Linked DNA regions of Homo sapiens. The protein of the gene in region 1 purifies or fractionates together with the protein of each later gene. This does not show direct contact. Each region holds a gene or a part of one and is shown on either strand. Other genes may lie near its edges.

Region 1 (3,817 bases):
GGGCAGGGTGTGCAGGTCCAGCCCCTTGTCACAGGGAGGCAGGCAGGTCTGCCTCTGCATCTCCACCATCTCCACTGGACCCTTCATGCTCCAAGCTGGAGCCAGGAGGTGCCAGGTGAGGAGGCCAGAGCTCCAGGGCTGGTGACATCTGAGGTGAGCCCAGGCGCAAGTTGGTGGGAGGGCCTTCACAAGGGCACTGGGTCGTGGCTTGGGAAACTGGGCAGGGGTGAGGGCATTTGCTGAGAGGAGGGGAATGGGATGAAGTACAGGCTCAGGGATGCAGGCAGTGGTCCCAAGGAGGGCCTCCCTGCCCACTGCCCATCCTGCCTGGGCCGTGTGCCATGAGCATGGCAGGTCACACACGGTGCCGGTGGAGGCCCTAGGAGCTGGGTGTTCCGGCAGCTGAGCCCTGGCCGTGTGTGTCCCTTCACTAGGTTATGACAATGCACCTGACTCTTCCCAAGAGGACCCAGCCCCTGATGTTGTGCCACATACGGCTATGTGGCTGGCAAGATGGTGGCTGAGTGGCCAGGGGCGGGGCGCAGGGCTTGGGTGTATAGTGCTGTCCCACAGCAGTGTGCTTCTGCGTTTCTGAAGTGGGCGTGGTAGTGAGGGCCATCTCCCCACCTGGTCCCCCCTGCAGTGTCTCCTGTGGTTTCTACCCCTGCAGTCTCCTCCCTCAGGGCCCCGAGCTCACGTGTGTGTTCTGTACCCTACGCATCACTTGGGGATTACTTGTCCAGACTGTACCCCAGCAGGAAGGGTCCACAGAGGTGGCCTGTCCCCATTGGTATTCAGACCCCACTGTTCTAGCCTGTGCTTAGCACAAGGGCAGGTTTCTGGGTGCCCCCATGGTTCATGAGGCCTTAGCCCATCCCGAGACAGTGTGACCCTACCCTCCGTGACTGCTGTGCTGTCTGGCCAGGTGCCTGCTGGGAAGAGCCTAGTGAACGTATGGCGATGGCTGTGTCCCCATTGCAGTGTCAGCCTGTGCCTTCAGCAGAGCTCGCCCTGGCCAGGGGTCCGCATTGAGCCCAGGCCCCTCCTCAGATGAGCTTCTGCCTCTATCCCATGGGCCCAGGTCCCAGTCACCACAGCCCCTCTACAACTTGGCCTCCTGTGGCTGTCGCACCATCCTCCTGCATGGGTGGCAGAGCCTCATCCTGAGGTTACCCAGCTCACAGGGCCCTGCTTCACACGCTGGTGCAGCTGCTGGGTAAGCAGGAGGTGGCGGAGGAATAAGAGGGCCTGGCAGTCCTGGTGGGGGAGACCCCACGTGCTGCGGCCCTGGAGGGCCTGCCTCTGAGTGTGGTGAAGGACAGTGGGGCTGGGTGCTGGGCAGCTGGCAGCAGAGCAGGGAGGGGCAGCCCCCGAGGGTTAGCCCAGGGCTGGGTTCTGACATCGCCCCCGTGGTCTTGTGGAGGTGATGGGGCTGAGACACCAGGCCGGAGGTAGGCCAGGAAGCAGCAGACAGGGGCAGGTGCGTGAGGGGCTTCTCTGTTTCCCATGGGGAGTGGGAGGGACAGGGCATGGTGGGACAGGGAAGGCCTGCAGGGGGCTGACAACAAGTCCTCCTTTGGGCTGCCTGGATGCTGGAGCAGGCTATTGTCCTTGATCAGAGTGACATCTGCCCCTGTGTGGGGATCGCTGCCACCAGCCCAGGAATCCTGAGCACGGGCCTGCTGCTGTCCTGGGATTTGCCTTGCGTCATATTCAGGGAACTCCGTGCCATCACCATCACAGCCCAGAACTCCAGAAGGACAGGCCTGTTCTCCTGCTCTGGACTCGGTGCCTGGTTCATGGCACTGTGGAGTATAGTCCCTGGAGAATGAGGCCTGTCTGGCCCCCACCAGTCTGCAAAACATGTCTGTGCTAGACTCACGCGGTGCCTACCACCTGGGAGATGGCTGCAGGTGACGAAGGCACCAGGGTTGTCCTGAAGAGCAGAGGCCCTGAGCCTGTGTGCTTGCAGAGCCCCGTGTGGTCATGCCTGCATCCTGGCCAAGCCGACCCAGATCCCTCACCACTGGTGCAGGGGGCCTCAGAGTGGGTTTGGTCTTTGATTGTCAGAGTAGACTTCATTTCTAGAACCCCACCAGGCCATGTGCATCAGGAGCTGCTGTTTGTAAGTGTCCTCCTGAGTTTTCAGCCACAATGTAGCCCTTGGTGGTCCCTTGCGTAGGTGCCTTGTGGTATCAGGCTGTCCTGCAGACAGGAGCTGTGCCAGGCCTGGTGGGCGGTCTGGGAGCTGACGTTCGAGGGCACCTCCCCTTCCTGCTGGGATGGTGCTGTAGTGGCTGCTTCCCAGGCAGAGCCAGCCACGGGTCAGGGGGTCTGTGGACAGAAACTGCAGGTGTGGAGTGCCAGGTGCGTCTGCACTGTACTAGAGCCTGTGGGCCGCCACCCGGCCTGTGCTCAGCTGTGTTTGGAAGCCAAGTCTCTCCAAGTGGCCCTTGAAGGAAGTGATGGCTTTCATGTTGATGGGAGGTGGGAGGACGCCCTCAGCCTCCCGCATGCCAAGGACACACCTGTGCCTTCGACAGCCACCTCGGCAGGGTGTTTTTTAATCTTTTTTCTTGTGAAGTATAATGTACTCACAGAAGAGTGCAAGACAAGTGTTCAGAGCATTGTATTACGGCTGAGTGAGCACCTGAGCAACCACCTTCCAGTCAAGAAGTAGAGCGCAGGGCCCCCGAGCCTCTGAATCCCTGAGCTGCTGCCACCTGCTCTCCCTGGAGATAGCCCCTCATGCCCCAGGAGGTAGCCCCTCACGCCTCATTTTTGCTATATTTATGAATGTATGTCTCTGAAAAGCATAGACTATTTTGTCTGCTTTTTTCTTTGGAAGCGTGGAGACATAAGGAGCAGCATCTGTGTGTGACTTCTCTCACTCAACTTTATCTCCGTGAGCTCCGTGTGTTGCATGTAGCTGCAGTCAGCTGTCGCTGTTTTCTTTTTCTTACGTTTTTTTTTCTTTTTTTGAGACAAAGTCTTGCTCTGTTGCCAGGCTGGAGTGCAGTGGCATGATCTTGGCTCACTGCAACCTCCGACTCCCTGGTTCAAGTGATTCTCCTGCCTCAGCCTCCCGAGTAGCTGGGATAAGAGGCATGTGCCGTTACGTCCAGCCAATTTTTGTATTTTTACTAGAGATGGGGTTTCACCATGTTGGCCAGGATGATCTCCTGACTTCATAATCTGCCCACCTTGGCGTCCCAAAGTGCTGGGATTACAGGCATGAGCCACTGTGCCTGGCCCCTAATGGTGTCTTTAATGAACAAAGTTACTCATTTTAATGGAGTTGATTCAAGTCTGCCAGGCTTTCCCCTTATGGAGAGTGCCTTTGTGTCTTGCCGGGAGTTCCTGCACCGAGGTCCGAGAGACCTCTCTCCATGTCTCCCAGGAACTTTACTGTTGTCCCTTGTAGATCCATGGTTCAGCTGGAATTCACTACGGTGTGCAGTGAAGGCCCTGGGTTTCCATGTGGGTACCCAGCGGTCCCGCCTTCCCCCACCTCAGTGCCCCTTGGATGGGGTGGGAAGGGGGTGCCAGGCAGTCAAAGAAGCAGGGTTGGGGGGGTGGTGTGGCAGCGGCAGCCTGGGAGGCCAGGAGGTTGGTGAGGGCAGGTGGCAGGCTCGCTTGTTGGGCATGTCAGTGAACATCTCCAGGATAACAGAGGCCAGGGTTGTCCCTGCCCAGAGAGGAGAGTTACAGACACGAGAAGGGGGAAGGTGAGAAAGAACCTGTGTGTTGTGTGTGTGAGGTTTGTGTATGTAAGTTGTGTATGTGTGAGGTGCCTGTGTGGTGTGTATGTATGTGA
Region 2 (3,817 bases), on another chromosome or scaffold:
TCATAGCTTACTGCAGCCTCAACCTCCCAGGCTCAAGCTATTCTCCCATCTCAGCCTCCCATGTATCTAGGACTACAGGCACGCACTACCACACCCAGCTAATTTTTTTGATTTTGTGGAGATGTGGTGCAAGAGTGGTCTCACTGTGTTACCCAGGCCAGTCTCCAGCTCTTGAGCTCAAGCAGTCCTCCCAAAGTGGTGGGATTATAGACAGGAGACACCATGACTGGCCTATAACTAGTTTTTATACTTAAGTGGGAAGATTGTTCTTTATGTTCTGATCTCCAAGAACTTTAAATAATTGTATGCTGCTGGCCAAGCATGGTGGCTCATCTCTGTAATCCTAGCACTTTGGGAGGCTGAGACGGGAGGATTGCTTGAGTCCAGAAGTTCAAGACCAGCCTGGGCAAAATGGTGAGACCCTCTCTCTAAAAAAATTTTTAAAAATTAGCCAGGCATGGTGGTGCATGTCTGTAGTCCCAGCTACTCAGGAGGCTGAAGTGGGATGATTGTTTGAGCCCTGGAGGTCAAGGCTGCAGTGAGCCATGATCGTGCCACTGTACTCCCATCTGGGCCATAGAGTGAAACCATGTCTCAAAAAAAAAATTGTATATATATGCAAATTGTAAATGTATGCAAAAATCTCTTAAGTTCTATTGAAGGTATGGAATGAGATAATCAAAGAGTTTCTAATAAGCTCTAAAATGCTTGATTCTATTATACTGTTCATTTCCAGGCCAATTTTTTAAATACAATTTTTCATGAACATAAAATTATGATGTATATATAAATATGTAGTAGAACACGATAGGGTGACTATAGTTAATAATATATTGTATATTTAAAAATACTAAGAGTGAAATTGGAATGTTCCTAACACAAAGAAATGATAAGTGTTTGAAGAGATGGATACCCTAATTACCACAATTTCATCATAACACATTGTATACCTATATCAAAATATCACACATACCCTGTAAATGTATACAACTATTATGTACCCATAATAAAAATTTTTAAAAATGAAAATATACATAGTAGAAAATAAACACGTGCTTTTCATTTTCTTTAAAACCCTTTAAACAGAAAGATGTATTTCAATTAAAAGACTTGGAGAAGATTGCTCCCAAAGAGAAAGGCATTAGTAAGTACCAAAGTTATACTGGAATGTTTTGGGAAATATACTGGGATGTTTTGGGAAATATCTTAATATTCATTAAGTCATCTTTTCTGCAACAGTCTTTCACTTTATGGAAAACCTAAATTTCTAGAGACAAAGAAATCATCACCATCCAAAGATAACCACTGTCATGTTGTCCTTTATTTTTCTGTATAATACATCCTGTATATTACATTTTGAATATATATCCCTGTCATTAAATATCCTTTTATAACATAAATGATTGTATAGTATCCCATTGCAATAAAAAAATACTTTTAAAAATCTAGTTGATAAGCTGGCTGGTAGCGCACACACACTTGTAGTCCCAGCCACTCTGGAGGCTGAAGCGGGAGGATCACTTCAGCCCAGCTAGGCAACATAGCAAAATCCTGTCTTTAAAATAAAAATCCAGTTATTAGACTGGTTTCCAATTCTTTTGCTGTCGAAAACAATGTGTTGACAGGCATCCTTCTACATATCTATTATTTTTTGTTTGGCTGTATTTATAAGGTGGAATTTCCCCAGGAAAGATATGTATAAATTGGGCTGGGCGTGGTGGCTCACGCCTATAATCCCAGCACTTTGGGAGGCCAAGGCAGTTGGATCATGAGGTCAGGAGATCAAGACCATCCTGCCTACTAAAACCCCGTCTCTACTAAAAATACAAAAAAATCTTAGCCGGGCGTGGTGGCAGGCGTCTATAGTCCCAGCTACTCAGGAGGCTGAGGCAGGAGAATGGCGTGAACCCAGGAGGCAGAGCTTGCAGTGAGCCGAGATCGCGCCACTGCACTCCAGCCTGGGTGACAGAGTGAAACTCAGTCTCAAAAAAAAAAAAAAAAAAAAAAAAGATATGTATAAATCTGAAGTTTTAGATACAGATTGCCACGTTTCTCCACCCATACTGAGAGTACCCATTCAAGTATCCTTGAATTCTTTATTGTATTTTTTAGTGTTTTTAATTTGGTAGTCAAGTCATGTCTAATTGCTTTATTTTCGATTTCTTCAGTTATTAATGGGGTTGAACATTTTTCTCATATATTGGCCATGCATATTTTATTTTATTTATTTATTTATTTGTTTATTTATTTATTTGAGACAGAGTCTACTCTGTCACCCAGGCTGGAGCCCAGTGGTCCAGGCTGGAGCCCAGTGGTGCAGTCCTGGCACACTGCAACCTCTGTCTCCCGGGTTCAAGCGATTCTCCTGCCTCAGCCTCATGAGTAGCTGGGATTACAAGCTCCTGCCACCATGCCCACCTAATTTTTGTATTTTTAGTAGAGATGGGGATTTGCCATGTTGGCCAGGCTGTTGTCAAACCGCTGACCTCAAGTGATCTACCTGCCTTGGCCTCCCAAAGTGCTGGGATTACAGGCATGAGCCACCATGCATATTTTATAGATGCACATTGATGTATTTTTTGTGTGTCTTTTGTTGTGTTGTTTCAAAATGAAAAAACCTCTTTTATTATGAGTATACATACAAGTGAAACCAGACAACCACTGAGAGTCCCTCACACTTTTATGTACACCACACAATTATTCTCTTTACAGTCATCAGTGAACAATTGGTTCTGCTACTTCTTAAAGATATGCAAATTTCTTAAGTTTAAATACACAGTTGACCCTGGAACAACACCTATGTTGTTCAAGATTGGGATACCAATCCCCCACACAATTGGAAATCTGCATGTAATTTTTGACTCCCCCAAAACTTAACTACTGATAGCCTGCTGTTGACAGGAAGCCATACCATGTATTTACTATTCATTAAGTGGCAGTGGATCATCATAAAGTTCTTCATCCTTGTCATCTTACATTGAGTAGGCTGAGGAGGAGGAGGAAGTGGTGTTGCTGTCTCAGGTGGCAGAAAATCCATGTATATAACTGGACCCATGCAGTTCAAACCTGTACTGTTCAAGGGTCAACTATACAATATTAATTACACCAGTGTCCTAATGTCCCCAGACAAATTGTAGGTAATGGAATCTCAACTGTATCTTGAAGGATCAAAAACAAAAAACAAAATTCAATCCAGTCTACAAGATGGAAAAATTTATTGTATTAACTAAATTCCTTTTCTTCTTACCTATTTTCCCTCCCAGTTATTGACAATTTTTTTCTGCAGTATAAGATGATGGCCAAATTACCCAACATCTTTTTTAAAAAAGAAACATTATTTAGAAAAGGAAAAGATACCATATAGCAACAGACTATGAGTGTTAACACCATTAAAATTATTTACTAAGCACTGATGCTAGCATCTTCTATTACTAGATAATCTATTGGGAGAGAAAAACTTGCATTTCTGTAGTTTTGTTTTGCTTTTTCAAAGGCTTCTCACAAGTAACATTTTATTGACATTACTGCTATGCACCAAAGTAAGTATGGAAATGATCATATCTAATAGATTTTTTAAATTAGGCATAAAGAACAATTTGCCCTAGAGTCATCCAGTGTTACTGCTAAGAGTTAGGATTAGAACTCAGGTCCTGTTCTTAATCCTGTATATTACTTGTTTTCCCCTAGGCTCCTGTATAAGTCATGCTTTGCTTAAGGATGGGGATACATTCTAAGAAATGTTTCCTTAGGCAGTTTCATTGTTGTGCATGTTGTTATTTTTAAGAGCTTATTAACTTTTTAACTCTTGATTTGTGAT

The links.
Region 2: the proteins of GNB1L (region 1) and MND1 purify together in Homo sapiens (co-immunoprecipitation; one large-scale study listed by IntAct). This does not show direct contact.

What each region holds. Positions count from the first base shown.
Region 1 is NC_000022.11:19,816,644-19,820,460, reverse strand, and holds part of GNB1L (guanine nucleotide-binding protein subunit beta-like protein 1), read left to right. Parts: intron 1-3,817. UniProt on the Homo sapiens protein: Acts as a critical regulator of DNA damage response (DDR) signaling via specifically regulating phosphatidylinositol 3-kinase-related protein kinase (PIKK) family proteins.
Region 2 is NC_000004.12:153,354,568-153,358,384, forward strand, and holds part of MND1 (meiotic nuclear division protein 1 homolog), read left to right. Parts: intron 1-1,086; coding exon 1,087-1,144; intron 1,145-3,817. UniProt on the Homo sapiens protein: Required for proper homologous chromosome pairing and efficient cross-over and intragenic recombination during meiosis.